Linked DNA regions of Homo sapiens. The protein of the gene in region 1 purifies or fractionates together with the protein of each later gene. This does not show direct contact. Each region holds a gene or a part of one and is shown on either strand. Other genes may lie near its edges.

What was found. The genes of interacting proteins can lie anywhere in the genome.
Region 2: the proteins of BATF3 (region 1) and EEF1D purify together in Homo sapiens (affinity purification with mass spectrometry; 2 studies listed by BioGRID and IntAct, with this or other methods). This does not show direct contact.
Region 3: the proteins of BATF3 (region 1) and BACH1 purify together in Homo sapiens (affinity purification with mass spectrometry; 2 studies listed by BioGRID and IntAct, with this or other methods). This does not show direct contact.
Region 4: the proteins of BATF3 (region 1) and GOLIM4 purify together in Homo sapiens (affinity purification with mass spectrometry; 2 studies listed by BioGRID and IntAct, with this or other methods). This does not show direct contact.

Annotation. Positions count from the first base shown.
Region 1 is NC_000001.11:212,689,841-212,693,340, forward strand, and holds part of BATF3 (basic leucine zipper transcriptional factor ATF-like 3), read right to left. Parts: intron 2,528-3,500; exon of another isoform or gene 2,424-2,527; intron 1-2,423. UniProt on the Homo sapiens protein: AP-1 family transcription factor that controls the differentiation of CD8(+) thymic conventional dendritic cells in the immune system.
Region 2 is NC_000008.11:143,587,416-143,590,915, reverse strand, and holds part of EEF1D (elongation factor 1-delta), read left to right. Parts: exon of another isoform or gene 1-308; intron 309-834; coding exon 835-1,925; intron 1,926-3,500.
Region 3 is NC_000021.9:29,322,922-29,326,421, reverse strand, and holds part of BACH1 (transcription regulator protein BACH1), read right to left. Parts: intron 364-3,500; coding exon 1-363. UniProt on the Homo sapiens protein: Transcriptional regulator that acts as a repressor or activator, depending on the context. Binds to NF-E2 DNA binding sites. Plays important roles in coordinating transcription activation and repression by MAFK.
Region 4 is NC_000003.12:168,029,925-168,033,424, forward strand, and holds part of GOLIM4 (Golgi integral membrane protein 4), read right to left. Parts: intron 2,929-3,500; coding exon 2,596-2,928; intron 113-2,595; coding exon 1-112. UniProt on the Homo sapiens protein: Plays a role in endosome to Golgi protein trafficking; mediates protein transport along the late endosome-bypass pathway from the early endosome to the Golgi.

The DNA of each region.
Region 1 (3,500 bases):
ACACAACCACAGACACACACACAGATACACACAGTCACACACACATCTGCAAACACACTCTCATACCCAGCCACAGACACTCTCACACACATACACAATCAACACACAGTCACACAAACACTCTCACAGTCACACACATACAGTCATACACACATACATACACCTCACACAGTCACACACACTCACAAAAACTCAGACTCACATGCAGACTCCCCACATTCACATTCACATACACACTCACACACACACACTCCACCCTGCAGCAGGAAATGCCCTTGACTTTCAAGTAAAATGGAGAGTACATTTGAATAGTTCCAATGTGCTAACATTTTAAGTAGATTCCAAAGGACAAGAAGCCCTCTTCCTTTGGTAGAATATTCCAAGCTGCCTTTCTACATATACTGAATTCCGCAGCAAGACGCTCTGAGCTTCCCAGTTTTGTCTCTGGAAGCCGTGCGCAGCCCTGTGGCCTGAGGCTTCCCTGAGGTCCACTGCCCTCCCCCAACCCATGCTTAGAGTCTTCAGAGCCGCCCGACAGGTGCCCCACGGGCCCCTCATCTGCCTTCTCCATAAGGACTTTCTCTTCTAGGATTTAAGCATTACTCATAAACCCGCTGAGGGACTTTTATTGAGCTGAGGGAATAACAAGAAGAGAAGAAGTCAAAATCTTTAGGTGAGACGAGCCCTTTGAAAATAACAAGAGGAGCTGGGAGGGAAGAAAGAAGAGGCCAGAGAACACTGAATAGCAGCAAAGGGGGAAGAAATGAAACCCACCTCACACCCAGAAGAAATTCCTGGAGTAAACGCAAACAAAAAGCAAGCAAAGAACATTAAACCCTTCATTATTTCCAAAAATATGACCCCTCTAGCTCGAATTCTGCCAAGTTCCAAATCCTTTGCCATGGGAGGGTTTGAGGTTGCTGTGCTCCCTCTCTGGGTATTTGTCGGGACAGTTTCAAAGCAGACACCTAAAAATTAGAGGTGGTGAAATCACTGTGGATCCCAGCTCTGCCTCAGAAATTAAGCTGCCTAAGGCAGTGGATCTCAAGTAGGGCAATTGTGGCAGTCTGCAGGGGACACTGGCAGTGTATGGAGACAGTTTGGGTTATCGCAGCTGGTCGGGGGTGCTACTACATCATGTGGCTAGAGGCCAGGGATGCTGCTCAACATCCAGCAGCACACAAGACAGGCCCCCAACAACAAGGAATTATGCTGCCCCATGCATAAACAGTGTTGAGGCTGAGAAACCCTGTTCTGGGCATCTAGGAGCAGGTGACTGGGATCAACGGGCTGCCTAGGGATACGCAGGGTCCAGGATGCCTCTGAGGCTGAAGACAGGATCAAGGACTGGTAAAGAAGTGGGTACCAGGGACCAGATATGACAACTAAGGTGAGAAAGAAAGAAGTAGGAACAGGCTAACAGGAGGCCATAGCCACACACAGACCCCATTTCACAAGTTAGAAAACTGAAGCTCTGAGAGGTACAGTGACTTTTCCAAGGTCACATAGACCTGGGATCTGACTCCTAACTTCAAGGTCAACTGCAACTCTCTTGTAGCATCAACAATTCTGCTTTTAGTTAGCAGTGCCTGGGTCCAGATTTCCCCATGATGGTTACCAGAAGTAAGAGGCCATAAGATCTCAGGACTTCAGAATAAGTCTACTCCCAAGCCTTCACTGATGCACTTCCCAGCAGAAAAATTGTGTTACCAGCAAGGGCTGTACAAATGAGTGCCACAATCAGTTTCTAAGCCACATGGGTGCTGCCATGAAGCTCTCAGAACATGCAATATCTGAAAAAACCATGGCAACACATACCACAATCACATTGCCCAAGTCATTTGTCAGTTTGTGACATTTGGGGCTCCTGAGGATGGCACTGCTGCTTTCCTTTTGTGACTCAAAATTCTTTCTCAGTCTTACACCTTTGGGGTGCCTGGTCGAGCCAGTCTGACCCACTTCTGAGCCACCTTTCAGCCTGGGTGAGATGAGACGAGACCCTGACTGTTCACTTTGGTTCTCATTTGTCAGTGTGGACTTTGGCACACGCCTAGTGTTCAGAGATGAATGCAGGTCGAAATCCCCACGGGAGGTGTGAGCGGGTTGAAGGGATGATTTGAAAGCCCACAGTGGACTCTGAGGTCTACAGACACACGTTAAGAACTGCTTCTCATCACCGTAGTCCAACTGCCAGCAACCACTGCCCAGAAAACTCTGCGTGAAGGGGAACCCCAGCCCCTGCCTCTCTGGCTTGGCCTGTGCAGCCTCTTCCCCCATTCTCCCCTCCACAGAGGGCTCGCCTTGACGGACACTCCTAGGACTTTGGAGATGGAGAACAAGGAGGGGAGGGAGGTGGCCGAAAAACTCCTAAGAGCTGCAGCTGGGGCAAGTTTCTCAGGGTGTTGGAGGCAACAGAGGCTCAAGTACTCACTTCAGCAGCACATACATTAAAATTGGAATGATACAGGGATTAACATGGCCCCTGAGCAAGGATAATATGCAAATTCATAAAGTGTTCCATATTTTTTTAAAAACCCAGGAAGACGAAAGAGCAAAAAAAACCCAAAAAAACCAGAGGCTCAAGTATAGGTAGAGTATGTGAGTGAGGTGAGGAGAGAAAAGTGGAAACTCTTGTTGCCCAGGCTGGAGTGCAGTGGCGTGATCTCGGCTCACTGCAACCTCCACCTCCCAGGTTCAAGCAATTCTCCTGCCTCAGCCTCCCGAGTAGTTGGAACTACAGGCGCACGCCACCACACCTGGCTAATTTTTGTATTTTTAGTGGAGATGGGGTTTCGCCATGTTGGCCAGGCTGGTCTTGAACTCCTGGCCTCAAGTGATCCACCCGCCTCAGCCTCCCAAAGTGCTGGGATTACAGGCACGAGCCACTGTGCCTGACCAAAAAGTGGAAACTTTAAACAAGTTTGCTCCAAATATCCCCCCTCAGGATATGCAAGAAATGCAAGTAAAGAGCTTGAGTTACTTTGAGATATTCAGGAATGCAATCCCTGCAGTGTGGGATAGAGGAACACATGAAGAAAGCCCTTTGATGCGCTACAGTCTCCAGGGAGCAGCAGGCAGTGGCTGTCAGTGGCTGTTTTCTGGGCCCTCTGGTGTCTCCCAATGAGCTGGCCTCACTCCAGATTTGAGGAGGAGGTTCCTATGCATGGTGTCCCCACCCTAGATTGGCCTGGGAGGTCCAGGGGTCCCAAGGGGCTTTCTGTCATGGCCCGCAGTAGTGTGCAAGGCGCTCTGTGCTCAACTCACTGGAGCTTGACAAAAGGGTTCTTTACACCATTTTTAAACCAGATACCTTGCCTCCAATAGTAGATTTAGTCATCCAATGATACACACAGCTACAATGCCCTCCTGGAAGGAACAGGGAAGGGATTACTCACGTGGTGAGTAATGATTTGGTTCAGAGATGATGTTCCTTTGGTTCTGCAGAAGGTTTGGGATATACTTCCATTTTCCTAAGCCAGTCGTCTGCTTCCTCACCCGCT
Region 2 (3,500 bases), on another chromosome or scaffold:
CTCTTTTTTTTTCTTTTCCCCTGCTCTGTTGTCCAGGCTGGAGTGCAGTGGCGCCATCTCGGTTCACTGCAAGCTCCGCCTCCCGGCTTCACGCCATTCTCCTGCCTCAGCCTCCCTAGGAGCTGGGACTACAGGCGCCTGCCACCACGCCCGGCTAATTTTTATTTTTATTTTTAGTAGAGACAGGGTTTCAACGTGTTAGCCAGGATGGTCTCAGTCTCCAGACCCTGTGATCCGCCCGCCTCGGCCTCCCAAAGTGTTGGGATTACAGGTGTGAGCCACCGTGCCTGGCCGAGGCTCCTTCTTTTGTAAGAACTTTGAGGGTGCTCTGGGTGTGGCAGTGGTGTGGCCAGGACAGCCACAGAGACCGTTCTGTAGAATGGGAACACCAGCCACCATGGTGGGGTGGCCAGGCCTGGCCTGTGGAAAAATGCAGGGAAAGCTAGTTAGCCAGTTAAAGCTTATTTCAGATAAATGACGAAAAATTTTTAGTGTAAGTATGTCTCAGATACTTCATGGGCCATACATTCACTAACAAAATTATATATTGTTCATGTATTGGGAGGCACTTGGCCTCCCAGAGTACTGAGATTACAGGCATGAGCCACTGCGCCCGGCCTGTTTTCTCTTCACAACAAAACGTCCCCACATGGGCTTGACTTCGAAGTCCTCGAATGTCATCTCATGGAAGCCCCACTGGGGAGCATCCTCAGCCCCTGCCCAGGGAGGGCAGCCACGGGGAGGGCGGGCACGGGGAGGGTGGGCACGGGGCTGCGGCCACCCGCTGTGTTGCAACTCTGCCCTCTGCTTGCTTTTTATCGCTGTGTCCGGAAGATGAGGAGCGGGAAGGCCTCCTGCACCCTGGAGACCGTGTGGGAAGACAAGCACAAGTATGAGGAGGCCGAGCGGCGCTTCTACGAACACGAGGCCACACAGGCGGCCGCCTCCGCCCAGCAGCTGCCAGCCGAGGGGCCAGCCATGAATGGGCCCGGCCAGGACGACCCTGAGGACGCTGATGAGGCGGAAGCCCCTGACGGCGGCAGCAGGCGTGATCCCAGGAAGAGCCAGGACAGCAGGAAGCCCCTGCAGAAAAAGAGGAAGCGCTCCCCCAAGAGCGGGCTCGGCCCCGCGGACCTGGCCCTCCTGGGCCTCTCGGCCGAACGCGTGTGGCTGGACAAGTCACTTTTCGACCAGGCAGAGAGCTCCTACCGCCAGAAGCTGGCAGATGTGGCTGCCCAGGCAGCCTGGCCTCCTGCCTTGGCCCCTTGGGGTCTCTGCACCCATGGAAACCAGGTGGCCTGCCACCACGTGACCTGGGGGATCTGGGTCAACAAGTCCTCCTTCGACCAGGCTGAGCGGGCCTTCGTGGAGTGGTCTCAGGCCCTGTTGCTGGCCCCCGACGGCAGCCGCAGGCAGGGGACTCCCAACACAGGCCAGCAGGTGGCCGTCCCCGACCTGGCCCACCAGCCCAGCCCACCGGTCAATGGCCAGCCCCCGCTGGGCAGCCTGCAGGCACTGGTTCGGGAGGTGTGGCTGGAGAAGCCCCGGTATGATGCAGCCGAGAGGGGCTTCTACGAGGCCCTGTTTGACGGCCATCCCCCAGGGAAGGTGCGCCTGCAAGAGCGAGCCGGCCTGGCCGAGGGTGCCCGGCGGGGCCGCAGAGACCGGCGGGGCCGCAACATCTTAGGGAACAAGCGGGCCGGGCTGCGACGGGCCGATGGGGAGGCCCCCTCTGCCTTGCCCTACTGTTACTTCCTGCAGAAGGATGCAGAGGCCCCCTGGCTCAGCAAGCCTGCCTACGACAGCGCCGAGTGCCGCCACCACGCTGCCGAGGCCCTGCGGGTGGCCTGGTGCCTCGAAGCTGCCTCCCTGTCTCACCGACCCGGTCCTCGGTCTGGCCTGTCCGTGTCCAGCCTGAGACCCAAGTAGGAGAAACGTGCTGGGTGGGCACCCAGCCTGGGCTGTGGGCACAGGGACAGCCATCCCAGGCTGGGGCTCCTCCAGCTTCCTCCCCTGCCCACCTGGGGTGGGGGCTCCCCGAGACCCGTGGGCCCAGCAGAGTTGAATGCAGGAGCAGGCTGAGTAAAGGTGGTGCTGCGCTTGTGGGTTCCAGGGACACTGCTTGAGGTTACAAAGTTCCAGGCTGCCTGGATGAGGGCAGGGAAGGGCTCAGCACAGGGCAGAATCTCTGCCTTGCCCAGGGTCCCTCTTTGGCTGGGAAGCTCCCCAAGTCCCCTGTGGCTGTCACATGCCAGGGCTGAGAAGATAAGGCTACTTATAGGGGCGGGAAGCATTGAAGCTGGTTTCTGGCCCTAGCGCTCCCCTGCGATGAGATGTGGGAGCCAGTGTGTCCCTGCCTGTCCATCCTGTGCACCCCCAGCTTTCCTTGTCACCTGAAACCACCTCTGAGGGAAGGTGGTGGCGTCTCAGATGCATGGGCATGTGGCTGGTCAGGTGGCCTCCATCCCAGGGTGCCCCGTCTGTGTGACCTCCCTCTGGGTGCTGTGGGCTTGCTCCAGGGTGCAGGTGCAACCCCAGCAGCGGTCTCTGGGGCCAGGCAGGTGGGTGGACGATTGGACTTGGAGGGGAATACAGAGGGCATGGAAGTGGCGAGGCTGGCCTGTTGGCGAGGGTGTCCTGGTGGTGGGGCGGGCTGAGTCAGGGAAGGACTCTGAAGGTCCCAAGCAGCTGCTGAGGCCCCCAAGGAAGTGGTTCCAACCTTGGACCCCTAGGGGTCTGGATTTGCTGGTTAACAAGATAACCTGAGGGCAGGACCCCATAGGGGAATGCTACCTCCTGCCCTTCCACCTGCCCTGGTGTTCACGGTGGCCTGGTCCCTCCTTGCCGAGAGAGTGTCCTGGGTCAGGGACGCAGAGGACGCTCACAGACTCCAGCCCTTTGTTACCGAGAGGACACTTGGCAAGGTCCAGCGATGGTCCGGAGTCCACACACAGACTGGCGGCAGGGCAGGAGGGGGACAGTTCTGTTGTGCTTGGTTGGACAGTAAGAGGGTCTTGGCCAGTCCAGGGTGGGGGGCGGCAAACTCCATAAAGAACCAGAGGGTCTGGGCCCCGGCCACAGAGTCATCTGCCCAGCTCCTCTGCTGCTGGCCAGTGGGAGTGGCACGAGGTGGGGCTTTGTGCCAGTAAAACCACAGGCTGGATTTGCCTGCGGGCCATGGTCCCTGTCTAGGGCAGCAATTCTCAACCTTCTTGCTCTCAGGACCCCAAAGAGCTTTCATTGTATCTATTGATTTTTACCACATTAGCAATTAAAACTGAGAAATGGGCCGGGCACGGTGGCTCACGCCTGTAATCCCAGCACTTTGGGAGGCCGAGGCGGGTGGATCACCTGAGATCAGGAGTTCAAGACCAGCCTGGCCAACATGGTGAAACCTTGTCTACTAAAAATACAAAAAATTAGCCAGGCACAGTGGTGTGCACTGGTAGTCCCAGTTACTCGGGAGGCTGAGGCAGGAAAATCGCTTGAACCCAGGAGGC
Region 3 (3,500 bases), on another chromosome or scaffold:
TAGAGGAGGTGAGGCTTTTGCATTTCCTTGATACCTGCGGAGTTTACACTGAGGAGTCTGAACATTTTTATTTTCCAGAAATTCCTCCACTTCATCAGTTTCTAGATCCCTCTGGTCCAAAAGTGAAAGTTTAAGGTCTGTTTTCTGACAGTGTGATGAAAAGCATTTTTTTCTTGGGCATTCTTGCTGGTCTGCAGTGGAGTCCAAAAACTTAAATTTCAGAAACTGAAAGCAGGATTCCTCAATATTATGTACACTTAAAAACTCCACACATTTGCACACTTCATCCACATTCTCTTTACTTAAAATCAGTTTAGCAGTGTAGGCAAACTGAATTAAAGGTTCAAATCCTTTAACTGTCACCTGTTGATACACAAAATAAAAACAAACACATCATTTGAAAGCTGTCTAGTACATAAAAACAAAATAAGTAGAAGAGGAATAGAGAGATATGTAACTTATTTGTGATAATTATAAAATATGTACTTTAATTTGAAGAAAACATATTCTTCTAAGAAATGTAAAAGAAAAAGATCCTGGAAAAGCATGCTTTTCACAGGGACCACACACTATTTTATAGAGTCCTCTCTTAATTGCACATGAATTATGGTTTACTCACATAAGTTAAAGATGTAAGACATTACCACAATTTTCCCATGATAGTGAAAAAAAAAATCATCTATGAATTAGAGCAGGATGAACACTACCTGCCACACATAGTGAGTCTACTGCTAGCCCAGCTCCACATGGCCACTGTATTCCAAACAACTCCAACTGCTACAAGCTACAAAAGCAGAATTTTAAAGGATATAAAACAGTATTTGTAAAGCAGTTACAAAGTCTTGATCCATGGTAAATGCATACTAACTGGTAACTATTAACTTTACTGTCAAAAATTCCTAACAGTAAAAGTTTTAAAGATTCAGATTTTTAAAAGTGATCTAAGAGAAGTTATAAAAATCATGCCTCGGTACTGTTTCAGCAAAAATTCATGGACTCGAAGTAACAAAACTTTTAAGTAGAAACTTGCACATTTACATTAAACCTGCCTCTTAAAGTGAGAGGCAAATGGAACCAACTCCAGTACACAGAAGGCATCATCCTGGATTAAAAGCACAAAATTAATTTGAAACCACTGAGTTCTTATAAGAGTGGTCAAGATAATATTAATATTTGTGATTTTTTTTTTTCTAAGACGGAGTCTCGCTCTGTCGCCCAGGCTGGAGTGCAGTGGCGCGATCTCGGCTCACTGCAAGCTCCGCCTCTCGGGTTCACGCCATTCTCCTGCCTCAGCCTCCCGAGCAGCTGGGACTACAGGTGCCTGCCACCATGCCCGGCTAATTTTTCTGTATTTTTAGTAGAGACGGGGGTTTCACCACGTTAGCCAGGATGGTCTCTATTTCCTGACCTCGTGATCCACTCGCCTAGGCCTCCCAAAGTGCTGGGATTACAGGCGTGAGCCACCGCGCCCGGCTGTGATCTTCTTAAAAACATAAACATGCTAAACCATGTTTAGGCTTTTTAAAGGCTCCAATAAAAAGCAGTGATACCATCAAATGCTAATGAGAATGCCGATAAACTAAATCACTCACATATTGCTAGTGGGAATGTAAAATGGTACAGACACTTTGAAAAAAACTTTCTTATAAAACTAAACATGCAACTACCATATAACCCAGCAACTGCACTCCTGGTCTTTTATCCCAGAGAAATGCAAATTTATGTTCACACAAAAACCAGTACACAAATGTTTACAGCAATTTTATTTGTGATAGCCAAAAACCAGAATTAGCCTGATTTCCTTCAATAGGTAAAAAGCTACACACACACACACACACACACACACACACACACACACACACACAAGGTACATCCATACTACAGAATATTACTCAGCAATAAAAAGGAATAAATTGCTGATACACACAAGCTGGATAATCTCAGCTAAGTCAAACAACATCAATCCTAAGAGGTAATATACTGCATAATTCCATTTATATAACATTTTTAGAATGACAAAACTTTAGAAAAGGAAGAAAGATTAGTGGTTGCCATGGATTAGGCACGGAGGAAGGGGGCAAGGGGATGAGGGCATGGAGTGTAGGCAGGAGATGTCTGTGGTTATAAAAGGACAACACAAGGGATCTTTGTGTTGGCAAGTTCAGTTCCTTTTTTTTTTTTTTTTTTTTTGAGGCAGAGTCTCTCTCTGTCACCCAGGCTAGAGTGCAGCGGCACGATCTTGGCTCACTGCAAGTGATTCTCCTGCCTCAGTCTCCCGAGTAGCTGGGATTACAGGTGCCCGCCACCACGCCTGGCTAATTTTTGTATTTTTAGTAGAGATGTGGTTTCACCATGTTGGCCAGGCTGGTCTCGAACTCCTGACCTCAGGTGATCTGCCTGCCTCGCCCTCCCAAAGTGCTGGGATTACAGGCATGAGCCACTGGGCCCGGCTGTTATCTTAACTATGGTGGTGGATACACAAACCTTCGCAGGGGATAAAATTATATAGAACTTAACCCGCACACACACATGCTAGTACAAGCAAAATTGTGGCAATCTGAACGCTATGGGAGATTGTATCAATATCCTGGTTGTAATACTATACTACAATTTTGCAAAATGTTATCAATGGCGGACACTGGACAAAGTGAAAAGGAACTCTGCATTGTTTCTTACATCTGTACATGAAAACATCAGTGTGACAGTTAATATTAAATGTCAACTTGATTGGATTGAAGGCTGTAAAGTCTTGTTTCTGGGTGTGTCAGTGAGGGCGTTGCTAGAGAAGACTAACATTTGAGTCAGTGGACTGGGAGAGGAAGACCCACCCTCAATATGGGTGGGCACCATCCACTCAGCTGCCAGCGAGGCTGGAACAAAACAGGAGGAAAAAGGTGGGATAGGTGACTTGCTGAGTCTTCCAGCTTTCATCTTTCTCCCCTGCTGGATGCCTCCTGCCCTTGACATCAGACGCCAGGTTCTTTGGCCTTTGGACTCTCAGACTTACACCAGCGGTTTGCCGAGGGCTCTTGGGCCTTTGGCCACAGACTGAAGGCTCTACAGTGTTGGCTTCCCTACTTTTGAGGCCTTTGGACTCGGACTGGGCCACTACTAGCTTCCTTCCTCCTCAGCTTGCAGGTGGCCTATAATGGGCCTTCACCTTGTGAACATGTGAGCCAATTCTCCTTAACAAACGCCCCTTCATACATACATATATCCTATTAGTTCTGTCCCTCTGGAGAACCCTAATACACTCGATAAAAATTTCAATTAAAATTTTTAAATATGTTAAAATAATCTAAAAAGGTCTTTAGGATAGTGAGTTATAAGGTATTTTGACATTGTCACTATAATGAAACACTTCAAATATTTGAAAACTTATGATTTACACATTAGAAAGAATGAATGAATGCATACACACATGCATGTATGCACATACCTTTCCTCCTAAATCCACGAATCAAACTTTGCTTTACTTGTAAAGTCTCATTCAATAATTT
Region 4 (3,500 bases), on another chromosome or scaffold:
GTTCCCGCAGCTGCTGGGCCTCCTCCACCTGCTGCACTGCCAGTCTCTGCTGTTCCAACTGTTCCTCATAGGGTGATTGGAATTTGATCATTGGCTTGGCTGAAGGGTACACCTAGGGTGAAAAAGAGTTGGTGCAGAGCAAGAGGGGTTAGCTCCTCTGGGTTTTCTCTTCATTTGTTTCTCCTGACAAACTCAGGAGGCAGAGCTGGTTTATTAACGACTATTTGTCAGGTGAACTGTGATTATACATGAAGTCCAAAAACTCCTATTTCCCAACTTTCTCTGAATCACCCTTGGCTTTTTTAGCAGCTGATATTTCCAACTACTGCTATTAAGGCAGATTTTCAATGTGCTCCCTTCTCAAATGGAACAGAAGGGACAACCGAAGATAACAGTTTCAAACTGTAAAATTTATGTTCACAAGGCTCTGATATAAACAAGTAGTTGGTAACTTTGGTAACTTCACATTAACTGGGCAATCTGTGACCTTATGCTACGCCTAAGGCTTTTTCCATGAACAGTTAAAGACCGAGGGATGCTAATTAACTCTAGTAATGTATATACCAATCCCAGGCTAAGCATAGCCAAAAAAAAAAAAAAAAAAAGCCACATTCCAGGTAATAGTGGAAAAGCAGATATTCAATTTTTTTTCAAAGAAACTAAGAATGGCTGAGAAGATGGTGCCTTCTGATTAAAGGGAAATCTGATACAGCAATTCTTAAAACTCTGCTTCCCTGAGATATTATCTCACCCCAGTTATAATGGCTTTTATCAAAAAGGCAACAACAAACGCTAGTGAGGATGTGGAGAAAGGGGAACCCTCGTACGCTGTTGGTGAGAATGTAAATTAGTATAGCCAATATGAAAAACAGTATGGAGGTTCCTCAAAAAGCTAAAAATAGAACCACCATATGATCCAGCTATCCTATTACTGGGCACATATCCAAAAGAAAGGAAATTGCTATATTGAAGAGATACTTGCACTCTCAGGTTTATTGCAGCATTACTCACAATGGCTAAAACATGAAATCAACCTAAGCATCCATCAACGGATGAATGGATAAAGAAAATGTGGTACATATACACAGTCATAAAAAAGAATGAAATCTTGTCATACGCAGTGACATGGATGGAACTGGAGGCCATTATGTTAAGTGAAAAACTTCAAGCACAGAAAGACATACATTGCATATTCTCATTCATGTAGGAGCTTAAAAAAGCGATATTGATAAGATAGAGTGGATTGGTGGTTACTAGAAGCTGGGAAGGGGGATGAAGAGAGACTGATGAATGGTACAAACATATAGTTAGAGAGAAGGAATAAGACCTAATGTTTGGTAGTTCAGTAGGGTGACTACGATTAACAATAATCTATCTTATATTTCAAAACAGCTAGAAGAATTTGAATGCTCCCAAAATAAAAAAGAGATAAATGTTTGATGTGATGGGTTATCTAGGTTTGATGTGATGGGTTATCTAGATTTGATCATTATACATTATATGAATGTTTCAAAATATCGCCCATACTCTGAAAATATATACATATATTATGCATCAATAAAAAGTGTCTGTACCCCATTGAGCTACTACCCATCCTCCCTGCCATACCCCAACTAACAAAAGCACACACAATTCTCACTTAAGGAAAGAGGTAGAGGGTTGGGAAGTAAAGCTGGTGGGGAATTACTTCCCCTATTGGGGAAGGACACAAGACTGGAAGAAGCTTTCTGAGGTTAAGTTTGCAACTACCTAAGAGGGCAACTACAGAGGTCTTCACACCTGCTTAGCCTAAAGCCTCAAGCGGCTTGAAGTCTCAGAAAATCTGAGGCCGAATAAAACTTCAGAGTTATAAATAGAAGGTGATCCACACCCATGTAAAGGCCAGGTAACCTACTATTGAGACTCAGTTTAGAGACAGTAAAAGAAAGGCATCTAGCTGCACTAACTGTTGGTTTAAAAGAAGAAAGGGTAGAGTTTTCTTTTAAAGCATCATTTATAATAATCCTGGCCATTTTTTTTTAAGAAAGGGAAAAGTCTTACGTGTAAGTGGCGTGTCCAGTAAGGGATCCTGAGCAGAGGCTGTTTAGATATGCTCACCTAGTAGAATATCTCCAAGTAGTAAAATCAGATTTTTGATAATTAAATAACCACCTTGAAGGTGAATACAAAAGGCAACATACTGACAATAAATGAACAGGGAGAGGAGGACGCCTGATCATAGAAAATGAGATTTTTCTCTGCCTCAAGATGCTCAAGACAAAACTTGGGTACAAGCTGGGAAGGTGCCCCATCAGGTACTCACCTGTTCTACTCTATTAAGGTGATGTGAGAATGAATCTCTGACTGTGTACAACTGACAAAAAGAAGAATGCACACATACAACAGCTGTGCTCTCTCATCACCAATCATCTTTCTGAGGTATGCGAATAGCTATGCTATTAACATTACAAGAGAAAACTTAAATATGAGCATATAATGTTTAGTAGAATCACTCACATTTCTATTTTAGAGATTGTGATATATTACCTTAATATGTAAAAATAAAGCCAGGTTTTCCATCCCAGTACACCATACCAGAAGCGGGTGACTTCATACCTCAGCACGCGCGTGCCCTTCCAGGAGGTTGGCTGCTTCTCGTTGCTCATGCTGCTCTTTCCACTCCCGATCCTGCTCCTCTGGTGATGGATCGTGTTCCTCCTCAAGATGTTCTGCTTGCCCGACCTGCTCCATTTCTTCCTCCTCCAGGGCCTTTCTGTGCTCCTCTTCCACCTGATGCTCCTCAGGTTCTCTGCGTTCCACTTCTTGTTGGATTGGCTCTGGGGGAGCCTGAAATTCTGCCTCCTTATGGGTGGGAGCATAGAGTTTTGTGTCTTCTGCTCTTCCAGGAACTGCTTCATGGTTCTGCCACACATCATTATTTCGAGACACCTAGGCCAAGCACATCACTGGGAATGACACTCTTCCAATTTCAAAAGTAATGATGTAATTTCTTGATTTCCATGTCTATGGGGCATGGGGCTACAACAGAAGAAGGTGTCTAGAAATATATATAGTCCTGGCTTTATGGCTGCAATGGAGTCACTTAAGTTTCTTACTGTGTAATCTCACTTATAAAATAGACATAATATAAGCAAAACTTCATCTGTGAAGAATACAGTAAATAACCTGGAAAATAAAACCTCCAAGTAACCAATATCTCAGAAGTACTCTAATTCCTATTTTCCCTTAGAATAAAAAGGAACAAAACCTCAAACTTCAAGTGATGAAATGTTTACATAATTTTCTTCAATGTAAATTTTGTTTTCAGTAATTATTTGAAAAGAGAAGGATGAAATAAAATTGAGGAGTTGGGTTTAGTTTTTACTAGTTTGGTTTACTAATTTAAAAAAGAATGCCATTGGCCGGGCGCGGTGGCTCACGCCTGTAATCCCAGCACTTTGGGAGGTCGAGGCGGGTGGATCACGAGGTCAGGAGATCGAGACCATCCTGGCTAACACAGT